Linked DNA regions of Homo sapiens: region 1 is linked to region 2. Evidence: fine-mapped expression QTL. Tissue or cell type: monocytes after R848. Region 2 holds a variant in brackets; the other region holds the start of a gene. All regions are shown on one strand. Distances are from middle to middle.

Evidence for each region. PIP is the estimated chance that this variant, and not a neighbour inherited with it, causes the effect.
Region 1: it holds the start of ZNF480, and the variant in region 2 is fine-mapped to the expression of ZNF480 in monocytes after R848 (Quach 2016, PIP 0.95).

What each region holds. Positions count from the first base shown.
Region 1 is chr19:52,292,011-52,301,700 of GRCh38, reverse strand. ZNF480 (zinc finger protein 480) reads right to left here and starts at 4,532. Exons shown (of 5, transcript NM_144684.4): 1 at 4,478-4,532; 2 at 1,217-1,307. The coding sequence starts at 1,288. It overlaps ZNF766 (zinc finger protein 766), which reads right to left. Exons shown (of 4, transcript NM_001010851.3): 4 at 5,655-9,690. RefSeq lists enhancers at 4,301-4,350, 4,421-4,470.
Region 2 is chr19:52,314,011-52,324,426 of GRCh38, reverse strand. ZNF480 (zinc finger protein 480) reads right to left here. Exons shown (of 5, transcript NM_144684.4): 3 at 10,148-10,274; 4 at 8,465-8,593; 5 at 1-2,848. The coding sequence ends at 1,569. Among named protein-coding and RNA genes, the nearest start is that of ZNF610, 17 kb to the left of the region's middle. The variant ACAT/T (reference allele first, on the strand shown) is at 4,707.

The sequences.
Region 1 (9,690 bases), 22 kb after region 2:
ACGGTAGCTGGAGTTACTTTGCATTCCACAGTACAAAGAGCAGACTACGTAAATAATTGGCAGAAAAATTCTACTTTGCAGTGGAATTCCCAAACTAACACAGACTGAAAACTAGCTAATCAAATCAATGATCTCCGATAAACTGTAATGCGGCTAGGAGATCAAGTAGTTAGTCTAGAATATAGAATGCAGATACAATGTGATTGGAATACTTCTGATTTTTGCATTACTCCTCATCTGTATAATGAAACAGAGCATGAGTAGGAAAGAGTTAAGAGACATTTAAAGGGTCATACTGGAAATTTATCTTTAGATATTACAAAACTGAAGGAACAAGTATTCCAAGCCTCTCAGGCACATCTGATGCTAATGCCAGGAACTAAAGAGCTTGAAGGAGCTGCAGACAGATTAGCAGCTATTAACCCGTTAAAATGGATCAAGACAATTGGAGGCTCCCTGATTTCAATGATGATTGTGCTTTTAATCTGTGTTGTTTGTCTTTGTGTAGCATGCAGATCCAAATCCCGAATCCCGAATCCTGTGAGAAGTAGCCCACCGTGACAAAGCAGCCTTTGCCTTTGTCACTTTGCAAAAACAGAAAGGGGAACATGCTGGCAACAGGCTTTAAAGAAATTGGCCATAAGCAGGATTTTTGCAGCAATGAAACGTGCTTGTGATGGCTATGACACACACTGCTAGAAGCTGTTGGCTTACTGGAGCAGGACAAGGAACACCTGGCCTGCCCGGAGTGGAAAACTGCTCAAACCACAAACAATAGCATGAGTGGCCTGTGCCTTAACACGTTTTTGCTGCAGATAATTAGCCAAAGACTGTTTCTCTACTCCTTGCTAAGAATGTTTTGTTTCCCATAAGGAATGCTTTTAGTTAATCTATAATCTATAGAAACAATGCTTATCAATGGCTTGCTGTCAATAAATATGTGGGTCAAACCCTGTTCGCAGCTCTCAGCTCTGAAGGCTGTTGGCCCCTGATCCCACTTTACACTCTATTCTTGTGTCTGTGTCTTTAATTCCTCTAGTGCCACTAGGTTAGGGTCCCCACGACCAAGCTGGTCTCGGCACTGAGGGAAGGCATAGGTAAGCGTGAGCAAACCTGTCAGGCAGGACACTTCAGACTCAGAGAAGACTCCCAACTCGAAGGCCCAGCGTTTCTGAAAGAAAGGAGACAGAACAATCCACCGAGAATATCATCTCACCTGAGGAAGAGCCATCCCTGACTCCTTTGCTTTCCTCTTCCTTCTCTTCTGGGCTTTTTCATCACACAGCATGACTCTTTAGAAGTCAATCCTAAATGTCAAAAATATGCTGTTTAGGGCTTAGAATCAACACACCCTTTTCCTGTGCCACAATCACACACACAGGTTAGACCTCACCCTGCGGAAAGATGTCCTCTGCTGCCCACTGCACCAGAGTTGATGCAGAGACAAGAAACTCCTACAGGAAGAACAACAAGTGAGTTTTTTACTCGTCTTCAGAACCTGCTCCCCTCCTAGAGATGCCCACACGCACGCTGCAGCAGTGGGGAGCTGGCCTGGTCTAAGCTCCCCTTCAGGGCCAGACCCAGCCCTGACCAAACCCCATGCAGAGCACAGCCCCTCCTCTCCTCTCTATGGATCCCAGGCTCATGTAATCCCTCAGAAATGGAGGACACAGAGCCTTGGTGCTCAGCACCAGAGACAGAACACACTGGAATCCCCGTATCCATGGGGAAGATGTCCCAAGACCCCCATTGGATGCCTGGAACTTCAAACAGTACTGAACTCCATTTATTCCACCCTGGCCAACATTGTGAAACCTCGTCTCTACTAAAAATACAAAAATTAGCTGGGCGTGGTGGCACACACCTATAATCCCAGCTACTTGGGAGGCTGAGGCAGGAGAAATGCTTGAAACTGGGAGATGGATGTTGCAGTGAGCTGAGATCATGCCATTGCACTCCAGCCTGGGCAACAAGAGTGAAACTCTGTCTCAAAACAAAACAAAAGAAAAAAAAAATCAGGGTATCCCAAAGCCCCTTCTTTTGATTAATTTGCTAGGAGGGTTCTTCCATCGGGCTAGTCATCTGTATCTTTTGCAATATTCTTCATAGCAAATGGGTAAAACTAAGCAAAATGCTTCCTTGAGTTCTGTGAATGAGGCTAACAAATTAATAAAATCTGAGCAAAGGGTCAAGGGAATCTTCAATTTTTAGATGTTTGGTTGAAGTTCAGGTCCCAACCAGGAACTTACAACCAGCACGTGAAGTAGCGGCAGCCTTGTGGAACTGAGCCCCCAACCTGTGGGATCTGATGCTAACTTCAAGTAGACAGTGTCAACTTGACTGAAATTACGGATCACCCAGGCGGTGTCTGACGAATTGCTTGTTGGTGGGAAGAAATCCCCACACATTTTGTTCATCAGATATGAAGCATTCTGTGTTGAGTGTTCACTATTGTGTTGACTGCAAGAGTAGGAAAAACACTTTGGTTTTCCTGCTATCTTTTACACTCGCCCACACCCTACCCCATCCCAGGAAAAGGAAAGTGGGTGACCCACACCTGAATGACTCAAGTCACTGACCTGTGCCTGAATAGGGAATGTGAGTGGAAGCTAAAGTCTGATGCCAAGAATTATAAAATGCACCAGCCTTACAGACAGGAGTTTTGCATATCCATTTTCATCTGTATTTTTAAAGTATATTTCATATTATCAAATTATAAATAGATAAATCAATGTCACAACTTAATCATAATATCCAATCAACTCACCGTTCATCTGCACCCAGGGTTCCCTCTTTTCTGGGTACTGTGTTTCCCTCCCTCATTCTGTACGTATCTCTCATTCTCACCTTCTTTCTCTAGCTTTTTTCCCCCTTTATTTTTCCCCTAAGATTCTGCTCATTTTGAGCCCCTCTCTTCTCCTGATGTTTCTCCCCTTCTTCCTTCTATTCCTTCTCTTCCACCTGTTCTGCTCCATTCTGGCAACTTGTTTCACCCCTCTTCCAAACTTTCTGCTCAATCTTTGATCATCCCATTCTCCACCTATTTGTCTCTTTTTTTTTTTTTTCCCTGAGACGGAGTTTTGCTCTTGTCGCCCAGCCTGGAGTGCAATGGCGCAATCTCAGCTCACTGCAACCTCCGCCTCCCGGGTTCAAGCAATTCTCCTGCCTCAGCCTCCTGAGTAGCTGGGATTACACGCGCGCGCTGACGCCCGGCTAATTTTTGCATTTTTAGTAGAGATGGGGTTTCACCATGTTGCCCACGCTGGTCTCAAACTCCTGACCTCACGTGATCCACCCACCTTGGCCTCCCAAAGTGCTGGGATTACAGGCGTGAGCCACTGTGCCCGGTCTTGCCTCTTCCCCTGACTCTACTCCCCCTCTGCTCTCTCTGTTAAATCCCTTCTTTTCTGTTACACCCCCTTGTCCCCACTCTCTGGCACCCTGAGATCCCAGGCCTCCACCTGCTGTGGTTCTCCCTCTGCTCTCGTTGTCACCAGCTGACTCCTCTTGCTGTCCCAGCACCACGCTGCTCTGTCTGCCCTGGCTCCAAATCCCTCCCCCTCTCCCCCACTCTCAAACTGAGGAACTTCCCACTTTGCTGCCCCTCTCACTATCTTGCTGTCCTTCATCTCTCCGGAGATGGAACTTTTCTCTGCATTTCTCCAGTTGCTTTTTTCCCCCTGCTACTTTCTCGGCTTCATTCGCTGTCTCTGCAAATCCTCCATCCACTCTCTACTTTGCCATCTGCTTACGGCTCTCCCTCAATCTTCTTTTCTCCTTCAAAATTTTTCTCTTTCTTCTCCCTCGCTCTCCGTCTCTCTTTCTGCACACATTCACATGGAAGGAATTGGGATCCGATGTCCACAAGCAGAACACCTTTTCAGTGGGGTGTTATTTGGCCCGCAAGAACACTGGATGTCAAGAGACAGAGTAAGTCACCTCCCCACACGCAGGGTTAGGAGAAGCGGTGTCTGGGAAGAGGAGGCCTGGGGAGTAGCGGGGCCCCGTATCAAGGAGGGTAAAGGTAGGGTCTGGATCAAGAGATGGGTGGCGTCTGCAGAATCCCAGCACTGGGCAGAAGACGCGGCTTCTCCTGGATTGAGATTGGAGCGCTGTGCTCCAGGGCCAACAAAGGCGAGGCTTGGGGGACCGCATAGACCGGAATCCGCCTAGCGGGGGAGGACTTTACGCTGTGCGGGGCGGATGTAAGCATCACTGAAGGACTTGAAACAGGAAAACTCCGCGACAGGAGGTGACTACATGGCCCTGTGGCAGAAGGACGGGGGACAGGACCCGCCGCCGAGCGATTTAAACACACAGGGAAGCGACCGCCTGACTCTCACGGAGACGCCTGAATTTGGTCGGGGTAGAGGGAGCGGTGCGAGGATTTCAAGGTCTGTGTGGCCCCTCAGATCCCGGGTACAGAAGCGCGGGGGAGTTGGGAAGCGCAGATTAATTTACACAAAGGGAAACTCACGCGCCGCGGCGTGACCTTCACTCCACGCGATCCGCTTCCGGGTTTGTGGGAAACTGCGCGCGCAGCGGAGGGGTCCGAGCGGGGCGGGGGCGGGGGCGGGGGCGGGGGCGGGGGCGGGGGCGGGGGCGGGGGCGGGGGCGGGGGCGGGGGCGGGGGCGGGGGCGGGGGCGGGGCGGAGTGGGGCTTGCGCTTCCCTCCGCCTCGCTTCCAGTGCCTCTGTTTTCCGGGTTTTGCCGGGGAGACCTGTCAAGGAGACTGGAGCAACTCAGCTGTCTCGGAACTGTACTCTTGCCGGGACTGAGCAAAGTCGGCTAATGATTAGATCCAGGAAAATTCCTGCTATTAAAGTTAATCTTAAGCCGACCGTGCGGTCGGGCACCTGTAGTCCCGGCTACCCCGAAGACTGAGGCGGGAGGATCGCTTGAGCCCAGGAGTTCGAGTTTACACTGAGTTATGACGGCCACTGCACTCCAGCTTGGGCGACAGAGACTCAGTCTCTCAAATAAATACATAAAAAACTAAATTTAGCAATTTAATTAAGCCCTGGGATTGTCTGTGAAAGCGACGCAAGTTAATACATGAACTGCAAAGCCCTGCCTGGGCAGAATGTGCAATTTCATGCTGACGGCCCACAAAGCAGAATAGAAATCCTCTCCTTTTCTATTCCCTGTTCTTTCGGGAGGGACAGAGGTAACCCTGTGCTCAGCTCCAGAGAGTTTTCTAGTGACAGCACCAGGGGCATGGAGGGCTAAGGCCAGTGAGAATTTAGGTCACCAATTGTTGGTTTTAAAAAAGCATTAACCGGGCGAGGTGGCTCACACCTGTAATCCCAGCACTTTGGGAGGTCAAGGCAGGTGGATCATTTGAGGTCAGGAGTTCGAGACCAGCCTGGCCAACACGGTAAAACCCCATCTCTACTAAAAATACAAAAATTAGCTGGGCATGGTGGCATACGCGTGTAATCCCAGCTACTCAGGAAGCTGAGGCAGGAGAATCGCTTGAACCTGGGAGGCGGAGGTTGCAGTGAGCTGAGATTGTGCCACTGCACTCCAGACCAGGCAACAGAACAAGACTCTGTCTCAAAAAAAAAAAAAAAAAGTCAAAAAATATGTTAATTTAACATTCTCAGGATTTTAAAACTACAAAATGCTGATGAAAGAAATCAAAGACACCCAGATAGAGACATATACAATATCAATTTATTGATAAACTCAACATAGAAAAAAATGTGAAATTACCCCAAATTGATACACAGGGTTAATATATTTACTATCAAGGCACTTCGTAGATACTGACAAGATTATCCAAACAATTATGTAGAAAAGCAAAAAACAAAACAAACCAACAGAAATCCCAAAAAACCTGGAATAGCTCAAACATCTGAAAAAAAAGATAGAGCAGCATGCTCCCGGGAGGTGAAGGTTGCAGTGAGCTGAGATCACTCCATTGCACTCCAGCTTAGGCAACAAGAGTGAAACTCCATCTCAAAAAAATAAATAATAAAATAAATAAATAAAATAAAGATAAAGGGTTGGAATCACTTCACGTTACTTCAAGTCCTCTAATATAGTGAAAGCATTTTTTCCTTTTTCATATTTACAATAAAACGTTTATACCTGCCATTGTCTTGTGCATACTCTTGTCAAAAAATATTGTCTCCAAACAACAGTCTCATTTTTGTGTCCCCTAAAATTTTCACTAGAGTGACATTCGGAAAAAATGTATTAAGCATAGCATCTGGCCGGGCATGGTGGCTCATGCCTGTAATCCCAACACTTTGGGAGGCCGAAGCGGGTGGATCACCTGAAGTCAGGAGTTCAAGACCATGCCTGGCCAACATGGTGAAACCCCATCTCTATTACAAATACAAAAATTAGCCAGGTGTGGTGATGGTGCATGTCTGTAATCCCAGCTATTCGGGAGGCCGAGGCAGGAGAATCACTTGAGCCTGGGAGGCGGAGGCTGCAATGAGCCAAGATCACACCGCTGCACTCCAGCCTGGGTGACAGAGCAAGACTCTGTCTCAAAAAAAAAAACAAACAAGCATAGCATCTGGATGCAATGTACAGAAAAAGAAAAAAGTAAAAAAAAAATATTATATATGTGTCTATACGTGCATATATAAACACAAAATATAATTTTATTAGAGTTGAAAATGAACCATGGAATATATTGCTTGATGCTGTAACGGGAAAATGACATTTCCATAGCTTTTGGAAAAATGCTCTTCTAGTAATATCATATTTATAACAAATATATTTTAATCATATTATATAATACATTATATTTATTATAAACCCACACACTAATTTTCATTGTCTACTATAAAAAGTATCTTAGGCAATTTTACTAAAAAAATTTCACAAGTGTTTTCAACAATCATATTGTGCAATGAGACCTGTATCTGTAACTATAAAAGGAACGTAAGATATTATCATGAAGAAAATCAGAGTCTTTCCTAACCAAGATGGCAGGAGCTTCCAGAGGAAGCTAGAGTTGTCCTAGAGTTGACTGCATTTTGTGATGTCTGAACACCAACGCCTTTTACACCTCTGCACTCCCTCTTCCTATTCTGCCCATCTGGTCAACTGAAAAATCCTCAGTGCCCACTCCTTTGGCACCAGCTGAAAGTTCAAACCACAAGTGGGCACCCCTGCCCAAGCCCTATCCCTTAACAATCATCATACCCCAAGCCAGTCACCTATGCCGATTCCCTAGTCATATTTGGACCAACCGGGGAAGTCTACCCTGCTCTCCCCAGAAAGCCTCATTATGGAGTAAACATTTTGAGATCACATTAGTGAATGGCATCATCATTCTCAATACCCAAACCAAACTTCAGGTGGATGTCAAAGCAGTTCCAGAAGAATGATCAAAAGTTCAAATTACCAAAAAGGTTATAAGGGTGAAAATGTGAAGTTTCTAGTTAATCTACCAAAGCAAAACGAAATTCCCAATCTGTGTGTTCATCCTCAAGAGAACATTTCTGAACATTAATATTTTTTCAAATTATGTCACTGAGCGCTACGAGGTCAACAGCAAGATTGTTACAATATTTTCATCCTGAAGTCCACACTTTGTCCTATTTTCCATATTACTGTATCTGTATTTTCGCTTCCTGAAAATGAAGGTGCCTGCCATGGGTCTTACTTGGCACACAAGAAAAAGGCACACAGAAACATAATACAGTGCATGTTTATCAACAGTGATGAACATTGAGGGCATATGATGATGAAGCTGCACTGTTATGTGATTTTCACTTTACCCACAAAAGCATCTTAGGGCAGAGTAGAGAGGTAGGCCAAGTGTGGTGGCTCATGCCTATAATCCCAGCACTTTGGGAGGCCGAGGTGGGCAGATCACCTGAGGTCAGGAGTTCGAGACCAGCCTCACCAATATGGAGAAACCCTGTCTCTACTAAAAAAACAAAATTAGCTGGGCATGGTGGCACATGCATGTAATCCCAGCTACTCGGGAGGCTGAGGCAGGAGAATCACTTGAACCTGGAAGGCGGAGGTTGCGGTGAGCCGAGATCACACCATTGCACTCCAGCCTGGGAAACAAGAGCGAAACTCCATCTCAAAACAAAACAAAACAAACAAAAAACAAAAACAAAGAGTAGAGAGAATAACTTAAGTACTAAGTATTATTACCCAAAATCATACTTACCCAAGTGTATATACCCAAAAGTGCATGTCATTTCATTTCACACACAAAATTGTTGTGGATGCTTCAACCTTAAAAATCCTGGCCAGGCGCCGTGGCTCATGCCTGTAATCTTAGCACTTCGGGAACCCGAGGTGGCTGGATCACCCGAGGTCAGGACTTCGAGACCGGCCTGGCCAACATGGTGAAACCCCATCTCTACTAAAAATACAAAAAAATTAGCCGGGTATGGTGGTGCATGCCTGTAATCCAGCTACTTGGGAGGTGTAGACAGGAGAATCACTTGAACCCGGGAGGCAGAGGATGCAGTGAGCCAAGATCGTGCCATTGCACTTCAGCCTGAGTGACAGAGCAAAACTTCATCTCAAAAAAAAAAAAAAAAAAGGAATACTATGCAGCCATAAAAAGGATGAGTTCATGTCCTTTGCAGGGACATTGATGAAGCTGGAAACCATCATTCTCAGCAAACTATCACAGTGACAGAAGACCAAACACCCCATGTTCTCACTCATAGGTGGGAATTGATCAATGAGAACACCTGGACACAAGGCGGGTAACATCACACACCGGGGCCTGTCGGGGGGTGGGGGGCTGGCAGAGGGATAACATTAGGAGAAATATCTAACGTAAATGACAAGTTGATGGGTGCAGCAAACGAATATGGCACATGTATACCTATGTAACAAACCTGCATGTTGTGGACATGTACACTAGAACTTTAATTTTAAAAATAAATTAATTTAAAAATCCTAATGGTGCCTTATTATTGTCTGCTATAAAGTATCCTCCTGAGACGAGATAAAACAATATTGGTAGAAAGAAGGTAAATCATTCACACTTTGGAAAATTTCAACTTTATTGTTCCAAACATGAGAAAATCCAACAGTTGCAAATTATGCCAGCAGTTAAATGTGAATCCTACTCAAGAACATGTTCCACTGGTAGTTTTGATTAAACTCTCTACTCTGATTTAACTGTTCTCTCTTCCATTTGAAAAATCAGAGTACTTTTTAATCAGTCTTTGCTAAACAGCAGCTATTGCTATTCAATGGAGACGGTGGCCACCATTTCCCCTGCATCGTCTCTCCTACGTAATCAGTCCCTGATGAACTCTCTTCCCATAAAAATCCCTGTGTCCTAAAGTCATGGCGTGCTCTATTTCATGGTCATTTGTAGAGCACAGCAGCACTGTGCCTGTCAGGAAAAGTGTGTGCTAACTGCAATAAGCATGATGACTGCCATCACGGTTTTGTTATTCTCTGTCCACCTCCATGGTCTCTAAATCAGACAATCTTTAATCTGAAAAGGCAGTGTCCTTATTCCTCCAGGAAACTGGATAGAAACGCTCCTCATCTAATGAAGTCAGCCCTGTCATCTTACTGATTCTTTCCCAGACCACAGTGAAAGGCCTGTAGGGAAGGCACATGAAGAAATTTCAAAGTTCAGGTTGAAGTCATAAAAACTAGCCTTTTTTTTCTTTTGAGACAGGGTCTCGCTCTGTCACCCAAGCTGGAGTACAAATGGCAAGATCAGAGCTCACTGCTCAA
Region 2 (10,416 bases):
CTGATTCTGTGAAAAATGCCATTGGTAGTTTGATAGAAATAGCATTGGCTCTGTAAATTGCTTTGGGCAGTATTTTAACAATACTGATTCTTCCTATCCATGAGCATGAGATATTTTTCAATTTTTATTGTTTCTGATTTCTTTGTGCACTGCTTTGTAATTCTCATTGTAGAAATCTTTCACTTACCTGGTTGGCTGTATTCCTAGGTATTTTATACTTTTTGTGGCTACTGTGAATGGGATTCCATTCTTGATTTGGTTCATAGCTTGGACATTACTGGTGTATAGAAATGCAACTAATTTTTGTACACAGATTTTGTATCCTGAAACTTTTTTGAAGTTGTTTATCAGATCTAGGAGCCTTTGGGCAGAGACAACAGGTTTTCTAAATACAGAATTATATCTTCTGCAAGAGAAACTGACTTCCCCTCTTCCTATTTATATATGCCTTTCATATCTTTATCTTGCCTGATCACTAAGCTTAGGACTTCCAGTACTATGTTGAATCGGAGTGGTGAGAGTGGTCATCCCTGTCATTTTCCAGTTCTCAAGGGGAATGCTTCCAGCTTTTGCTTGTTCAGTATTAATTTGGCTGTGAGTCCAGCATAGATGGTTCTTATTGAAGTATGTTCCCTCAATGTGTAATTTGTTGAGGGTTTTTAAAATGAAGGGATGTTGAATTTTATTAAAAACCTTTCTGCATCTAAAGAGATGATCATGGTCATGTGGTTTTTGTTTTTAGTTCTGTGTATGTGATAAATCACATTTATTGATTTGTGTATACTGAACCAACCTTGCAGCCCAACACTAAAGCCTGCTTGATAATGTTGGATTAGCTTTTTGATGTGCAGATGGATTTGGTTTACTAGTATTTTGCTGAGGATTTTGGCACCTATATTCGTCAGGAGTACCAGCCTGAAGTTTTCTTTTTTCATTGTGCCTGTCAGGTTTTGGTATTAGAATGATGCTGGCCTCATAGAATCAGATAGGGAGGAGTCCCTCTGCATCCATGTTTTTGAACAGTTTCAGTAAGATTGGTAACAGCTTTTCTTTATACATCTCGTAGGCTTCAACTATAAATCTGTCTGGTCCAGAGTTTTGTTTGATAGATTTTTAATTAGTGATTAAATTTTGGAACTCATTATTGGTCTGTTCAGGGATGCAATTTCTTCTTGGTTCAATCTTGGGGGGTTATATCTTTCAAGGAATTTATTAATTTTTTCTAGGTTTTCTAGTTTGTGTGCATACAGGTGTTTATAGTAATCTTTGAGGGTTTTTCGTATTTCTGTGGGGTTGGTGGTAATGTCCCCTTTGTCATTTCTGATTGTGTTTTTTAGATCTCCTTTTGCAAGGTGTGAAATTTTTTTGAAGACTTTTCCACACATTTATTATAATTGTGAAGTCTCTCCAGTATAAATTCTCTAATGAGTTATTAGAAAAACTTGTGTTTGAAGACCTTGTCATATTCTTTACATTTGCAAAATTTCTTTGCAGTATGGAATAAAAGATGGGTAGTAAGGCTTGAGTGCACACTAAATTCTTTGACGCATTTGTTGCATTTGTAGTTTCTATCCCATATGAATTGTCCAATGTTGTGCTAGGTATGAAATGCGACTAAAGGCCTTGCCACACTCATTACATTTGTAAGGTTTCTCTCCAGTATGAATTTTCCGATGTCGTGCAAGGTGTGCAATTCGATTGAAGACCTTGCCACATTCATTACATTTGTAAGGTCTTTCTCCAGTATGGATTCTCTGATGATTGGTTAGTGATAACTTGTGTCTGAATGCCTTGCCACATTCACTACATTTGTAAGGCTTCTCTCCAGTGTGGATTACAAGATGGGCTGAAAGGCCTGAATACTCACTAAATGCTTTACCACATTCATTACATTTGTAAGGCTTCTCTCCAGTATGAATTCTTCGATGTCGTGCAAGATTTGAAAGTTGATTAAATACTTTTCCACATTCATTACATTTGTAAGGTTTCTCTCCTGTATGAATTCTCCAATGTTGTGCTAGGTGCGAATTTTGAATAAAGACCTTTCCACATTCATTACATTTGTAAGGTTTCTCTCCAGTATGAATTTTCTGATGTCGTACAAGGAGCGCAATCCTATAGAAGGCCTTGCCACATTCATCACATTTGTAAGGCTTCTCTCCAGTATAAATTCTCCAATGATTTGCTAGAGATGACTTATGACTGAAGCCTTTACCACATTCATTACATTTGTAAGGTTTCTCTTCAGCATGAATTCTTTGATGTCGTGCAAGGTAAGAATTATTACTGAAGACTTTACCACATTCATTACATTCATACGGCTTCTCTCTGGTATGAATTCTTTGATGTCGTGCAAAGTTTGAATTGTAACTAAAAACCTTGCCACAGACATTACATTTGTAAGGTTTCTCTCCAGTATGAATTCTACAATGTTCTGCAAGGTGTGAATTGCGACTAAAGACCTTGCCGCATGAATTACATTTGTAAGGTTTCTCTACAGTATGGATTACTTGATGTTTAGTAAGGCTGGAAGATACTCTAAAGACTTTGCTATGCTCATTACATTCATAAGGTTTTTCTCTAAGGTGTACTTTCTGTTCTTGTGGGAGAAATGAAGAATCATCAAAATCATTCCTATTAAAAATGGGGGTTTTGACACTGGAAGACATTTCTTGAAGACAGGAAACAGAGGAACTGTGGTTGATAAAGTTTTCAACTTGATTACATCCATTTATTACCCTTTCATCTGGAAATAGCTCCAGTTCAGACAGATGTAAGTGAAAGGATACTCCAAGTTGTTTTTTAATTGGTTTGTCTTCTGCATTGCTTCCCAATGCATAGCTGCTCCCTAGGAAAGCAAGAAAAAAGTAAAATTCAGACCCCATAATTCTGGCATGTTTAGAGTCTGATGAAAATACTAGAATCTGCCTCATCTGACTCAGACATTGGAAGAAATATCAGCACACTTTGTACATCACGCTGGTTGTGCTGAAAATAGAAAAGGGTAAGGTGATGCACTGGAGTTCTGGGAAATCTGTAGGAGTCAGGAGGATTACAGGTGAGTTTGAGAGGGATTATGAGTAGAGAGATAGAACAGGAATTGAAACCTTCTGAGAAAAAGAAGGGACAAGTCTCTAGGGAAAATAAGACACTCAAGAGAAGCAGTATACATAATAACAGTACATGCACAAAGCTAGGAAAGGCACATCCCCAGAAAAGGAGTGAGTGTTCCCACACCCTTTACAACAGGCTAATTAGAAAAGATCTCCCTCTGACCAAGTCTTATACAAAACAACTGAGAGAAGCAGTTATTTTACCAAACCTAATCCAAAAATTACAAGGCCTATGAAAGGAAAGAGAAATATGGCTAAAAAATAAATAAAGCCAAACCTAGAAAAAGACAGGCAGCTCTCTAAATTACTAGACAAATATTTATTTATTTATTTATTTAAGACAGGGTCTCACTCTATCGTCCAGGCTGGAGTGCAGTGGTATAGTGTAGCTCACTGCAGCATCTACTTCCCCAGCTCAAGCGATCTCTCCTGCTTCAGCCTCCTGAGTAGCTGGGTCTACAGGCATGCACCACCACATTCAGCAAGTTTTGGGGTTTTTTGTTATTTCTTTTGTTTGTTTTTAAGATGGAGTTTTGCTCTTGTTGCCCAGGCTGGAGTACAATGATGCAATCTCAGCTCACTGCAACCTCCACCTCCAGGTTCAAGCAATTATCCTGCCTCAGCCTCCCGAGTAACTGGGACTACAGGTGCCGGCCAACATGCTCAGCTAATTTTTGTATTTTTAGTGGAGATGGGGTTTTACCATGTTGGCCAGGCTGGTCTGGAACTCCTGACCATGATCCGGCCACCTCAGCCTCCGAAAGTGCTGGGATTACAGGCGTGAGCCACCACATCCAGCCTCAGCAAGTTTTTTCTGTGTTCTTTTAGAGACAAGGGCTCGTGATATTGCCTAGACTGGTCTCGAACTCCTTGGCTCAAGTGATCCTCCTGCCTTGGCCTCCCAAAGTGTTGGGATTACAGGCATGAGGCACTGCACCTGGCCCTTGACAAATATTTAAAGCAACTGCCTTAAGATTCTTAATGAGCTAAAAGATATCAAGGAGAGATAGACAACTAAATGAAATCAGAAAAACAATACATGAGAAGGAGGATATTAAACAAAGGAGGAAACAAAAAACATTCTGGAGCTGAAACACAATAAATAAAGTAAAAATTCATTAGGTGCTCAACAGCAGATGGATAGAGCACCAAAAAGAATGAGCAAACTTAAAGGTCAGTTATTCAAAAGTATCAGCTCCACCAGGCACAGTGGCTCACGCTTGTAATCCCAGCACTTTGGGAGGCCAAGGCAGGAGGATCACTAGGTCAGGAGTTTGAGACCAGCCTGACCAACATGGTGAAAGCCTGTCTCTACTAAAAATACAAAAATTAGATGGACATGGGGGCATGCACCTGTAATCCCAGCTACTCAGGAGGCTGTGGCAGGAGAATCGCTTGAACCTGGGAGGCAGAGATTGCAGTGAGCCAAGATGGAGCCATTACACTCCAGCCTGGGCTACAGAGCAAGACTCTAATTTAAAAAAAAAAAAAAAAAAAAAAAACACAGTATCAGCTACAAAGACCAAAAACAAAAAACAGAGAAGAAAAGCAAATAAACGCTAATACATTTTTCGGATGCTCTCAAGCACAACA[ACAT/T]ACAAATTATTAGAGGTTCACAAGGAGAAGACAGAGGATCAGAAATTGCAACTGAAGAAATAATGTCCAAATAATTGTCCAAATCCCAATTCTGAAGAAAGACCTGAATATACAATTCAAGAAGCTTGACCATTCAAATTAAAATGAACCCAAGGACATTCACACAGAGATACATTATAAGCAAATTATCAAACATCAAAGACAGAGGAAGAATTTTGACAGGAGCAACAAAAAAGATATTTGCCATTTAGAGGAAAAGGTATAAGACTATGTACTTTCTCCAGCGGAAACTTTGCCTGCCAGAAGGCAGTGAGATGACATATTGAAAGTGCTTAAAATCAACCAAGAATACTATATTTAGCAAAAGTCACCTGCAAAAATAAAGGAGAAATTTAGATTTTCCTCGATAAAGAAGAGCTAAGAAAGTTCATTACTACTCTAGACCTGTCCAACAAGAAATGCTACAGGGAGCCCTTCAAAATGAAATAAAAGGATTCCAGACAGTACTGGTAACCCAAATGAGAGGATAAAATTCTCCATTAAAGTAAAAAATGACCCAGGTGTGGTGGCTCACACCTGTAATCTCAGGGTTCTGGGAGGCCGAGGCGGGCAGATTGCTTGAGGTCAGGAGTTTGAGACCAGACTGACTAACGTGGTGAAACCCCATCTCTACTAAAAATACAAAAATTAGCCAGGCATGGTGGCACATGCCTGTAATCCCAGCTACTCGGGAGGCTGAGGCAGGAGAATCACTTGAACCCAGGAGGCAGAGGTTGCAGTGAGCCAAGATCTCACTGCTGCACTCCAGCTTGGATGACAGAGCGAGAATCCATCCCCCCATGCAAAAATGAAAAAAAAAGCAAGAATAGAGAAGCCAGAAACAAACCCTCAAATACTTGGTAGAATAATGTTCAATCAAAATGTCAAGACCATGTAACAAGGAAAGGACAGTCACTTCATCAAATAGTGCTGAAGAAAAAGGATGCCCACAAGCAAAGGAATGAGGCTGAACCCTTACTTTACACCCCATGCAAAAATTAACTTAAAGTCTATTCATGACCTAAAACGATAAAACTCCTAGAAAAAACCATAGGTAAAAAGCTTCATGAGATTGGATTCAACATTTCCCCAGATATAAAATTGATAGTACAGGAAAGAAGGTAAATATACACACGATGCACTATGACAAAATTGAGAACTATTGTGGATAGAAGAAAACAATTACCACAATGTAAAGAAAACCTACCATATGTGAGAAAATATTTGCATATCATATCTGTGATAAAAACTTAATATCTAAAATATATATAGGCCGGATGTGGTGGCTCATGCCTGTAATCCCAGCACTTTGAGAGGCTGCAGCAGGTAGATCACCTGAGGTCAGGAGTTCAAGACCAGCCTGGCCAACATAGTGAAACCCCATCTCTATTAAAGATACAAAAATTTAGCCAGGCATGGTGGTGTGCACCTGTAATCCCAACTACTTGGGAGGCTGAGGTGGGAGAATTGCTTGAACCTGGGAGGCGCAGGTACCAGTGAGCCGAGATCACGCCACTGCATCCAGCCTGGGTGACAGAGCAAGACTCCGTCTCAAAAAATAAATAAATAATTATTTAAAATAATAAAATAAAAATATATAAATAAGTCCTACAAAGCAAAACAAATAACGAATTAAGAAATGTGGAAAGAAATACACATTTTTCCAAAGGTGATATACGACCATATAAGAAAATGCAAAATATCACAAATCATTAGAGAGAAATGCAAATAGAAAACTGAATATTTTTCCTCACACCAATAAAGAATATCACCTCACACCCATATAGAATACGTTTTGTCAAGAAAAGGGAAAAAAATGAAACACCAGAAAATCACAAGTGTTGTCGAAAATATGGAGAAATAGGAGAATTTTGTGCCACTGTTGGTGGAAAATTGAAATGGTGCAGTCACTATGGAAACAAGTATGACATTTTCTCAAAGAATCCAAAATCAAATGATCAGTATAGGCAACAATTCCACATCTGGGTATAAAGATAAAAAAGAAAAAGGCCAGGCGCACTGGCTCACACCCTTAATGTTACTACTTTGGGAGGCCTAGGCAGGCAGATCACCTGAGGTGAGGAGTTCGAGACCAGCCTAGTCAACATGGTGAAACCCTGTCTCTACTAATAATACAAAAATTAGCTGGGCGTGGTGGCACACACCTGTAATCCCAGCTGCTCAGGAGGCTGAGGCAGGAGAACTGCTTGAACCCAGGAGGTGGAGGTTGCAGTTAGCCGAGATTGCACCATTGCACTCCAGCCTGGGCAACAAAAGCGAAACTCCATCTCAAACAAACAAATGAAAAATAAAATGAAAGTAAACACAGCATCTTGAAGAGATACTTAAAAACCCATGGTCAAGGCCAGGCACGATAGCTCACGCCTATAATCCCAGCACTTTGGGAGGCTGAGGCAGGTAGATCATGAGGTCAGGAGTTCAAGACGAGCCTGGCCAATATGGTGAAACCCTGTCTCTACTAAAAATACAAAAACTAGCTGGGTATGGTGGTGTGCACCTGTAGTCCTAGCTGTTTGGGAGGCTGAGGCAGGAGAATCGCTTGAACCCAGAGGGTGGAGGTTGCAGTGAGCCAAGATCACGCCACTGCACTTCAGCCTGGGCGAGACAGTGAGACACTGTCTCAAAAAACAACAACAACAAAAACCCATGTTCATAGCAGCATTATTCAAAAATAATAAAAAGGTGGGCGCAATGCAGGTGTCCACCAATGGATGAATAGTTAAACAAACTGTGGTACAGACAAATAGAAGAATATTATTCAGTCCTAAAAGAATATACAAATTTCTTGATGTGCTACAAAATAGATGAACCTGAAAGACACTACGCTAAGTGAGATAAGCCAGTCATAAAAAGACAAATACTGTGTGATTCCATTTGAGTATCCAAAATACTGAAATTCACACAAACAGACAAGAAAGCGGGAGGGGAGACAGTGAAATTGTCGGGGGAATTAGTTAAATATTCCTGGTAAATCAATTAAATCTAAATTCGAAATAAAAAAATAAGACTAGGCATCATGGCTCATGCCGGTAATCAGAGTACTTATGGAGGCTGAGGCAGGAGGATTGCTTAAGCCTAGGGGTTCAAAATCAACATAGCAAGACCCCTGTATCTGAAAAACAAAAAGAAGCTGGGCGCGGTAGCTCATGCCTGTAATTCTAGCACTTTGGGAGGCAGAGGCAGATAGATCACTTAAGGTCAGGAGTTCGAGACCAGCCTGGCCAACATAGTGAAACCCTGTCTTAACTGAAAATACAAACAAAAATTAGCCAGGCATGGTGCAGGTGACCATAATCATAGATACCTGGAAGGCTGAGGTAGCAGAATCCCTTGAACCCGGGAGGCAGAGGTTGCAATGAACTGAGATAGCGCCACTGCACTTCAGCCCGGGCAATAGAGCAAAATTCCATCTCAAATAAAGGAAAGGAAGAAAGGAAGAAAGAAAGAAAGAAAGAAAGAAAGAGAAAGAGAGAGAGAGAAAGAAAGATCTCCAGTCAAATAAACAAAAAAATTATTTATTTATTTGAAACTGAGTCTCGCTCTGTCTCTCAGGCTCTGTTTCATGACAGTGAAACTCCATCTCAAAAACAAAACAAACAAAAATACAAACATAAAAAACCAAAACTAGACAAAACAAAACAAAAAAAAAGCCCAAACAACAGCATGGCTTCCACCATGCCCATCTGAGCTCTTACCTGTGTTCACACCTTTGATGCACTCCCTCCCATCTGAATTTTTTGCTATTTTCACTTCACTCTCACCAGACCAGGGCTCCCTCCTTTGCTCCAACATGGAGTTAATATTCAGGTCAGGAAGAGAGATTCCTGTTTGTAAAAAAAAAAATCAAAATGTGCTGTAGCATCTCCAAAATCCAAGCCCTATGTGTAGGAAGGAGACAGGATATCACAAATGAATCAAGAATAATATTTCACAAATTCATCCATAGACTGCCTCCTTCTGAATGCTTAGGGAATATTATAACATGCAGACATCAAGCCCCTTTCCAAGAACTACTGAGTATAAAGCACAGGAGTAGAGGCTGGGCGTGGTGGCTCACACCTGTAATCCCAGCACTTTGGGAGGCCGAGACGGGTGGATCACCTGAGGTCGGGAGTTCGAGATCAGCCTGACCAACACAGAGAAACTCGGTCTCTACTAAAAATACAAAAAAAAAATTAGCCAAGCATGGTGGCACATGCCTCTAATCCCAGCTACTCGAGCAGTTAAGGCAGGAGAATCATTTGACCCCAGGAGGCGGAGGTTGCAGTGAGCCAAGATCGCGCCATTGCACTCCAGCCTCCAAGAGTGAAACACTCTGTCTCAAAAAAAAAAAACAAAACATAAAACAAAGCACAGGAGTAGAAAACAGGGAAGTGGGTATCTGAAAAGTTTGCCATAAGGTTTTATGCAGCTGGGTGCGGGGGCTCATGCCTGTAATCCCAGCACTTCGGGAGGCTGAGGCAAGTGGATTGCTTGAGCCCAGGACTTTGAGACCAGCCTGGCCAACATTGTAAAAATGAAATATAGAAAAATTAGCCAGGTGTGGTGGCACGTGCCTGTAATCCCAGTTACTAGGGAGGCTAAGGCGAATTGCTTAAGCCTGGGAGGCAGAGGCTGCAGTAAGCCAAGATCACGTGCCCTCCAGCCAGGGCAACAGAGCAAGACTCAATCTCAAAAACAAACAAAAAAGGTTTTATGCATACTTCCGCCCTGGTACCACCCAATGATGTATAATGAAGGGGACAGAACATCTGAAGAAAAAGGACATTTCAACTCCAGAAAACACTATGGAGCTTTTCATTTCTGAGTCAACAAGGTTTTTAGTTTTTTGTTTGTTTGTTTGTTTTTTTAATGAGACGGAGTTTCACTCTTGTTACCCAGGCTGGAGTGCAATGGTGCATTCTCGGCTCACTGCAACCTTCACCTCCCGGGTTCAAGAGATTCTCCTGACTCAGCCTTCCAAGTAGCTGGGATTACAGGCTCCCACCACCATGCCCGGCTAATTTTTGTATTTTTAGTAGAGATGGGGTTTCACCATGTTGGCCAGGCTGGTCTCAAACTCCTGACCTCAAGTGATCCTCCTGCCTTGGCCTCCCAAAGTGCTGGGATTACAGGTGTGAGCCACGGATCCCAGCCTGAGTCAATAAGGGTTTTTTTGGTTTTTTTTTTTTTTTTTTTTTTTTTGGGACGGAGTTTCACTCTGTTGGCAGGCTGGCAATGACGTGATCTCGGCTCACCAAAACCTCTGCCTCCCAGGTTCAAGTGATTCTCCTGCTTAATGTCAGTCAAACAATGCAGGGGCTCCCAGGAGGCACACAAGGGAAAATGCTGAAATAACCAAGGGCAGATCCCGGCTTCTGCAGGGGCATGATCCTCACCCAGGGAGACCAGGTTCCTGTAGTTCTCCAACATCACATCCTTGTATAAAGCCCTCTGTGCAGGGTCCAGGCATTTCCACTCCGCCTGAGAGAATTCTATGGCCACGTCCCTGAATGTTAAGTGTCCCTAAAATGAAAACCACATTTCACCAACAGGATATGTAAAGGGTATTAATCTTCACTCAAAATGAGAAGGGAGTTGTAAAGATTAACTGGATTGAAGAGAATGTTCTGACGAATCCCCATTAAGGTATCTGTGATGTAGTTAT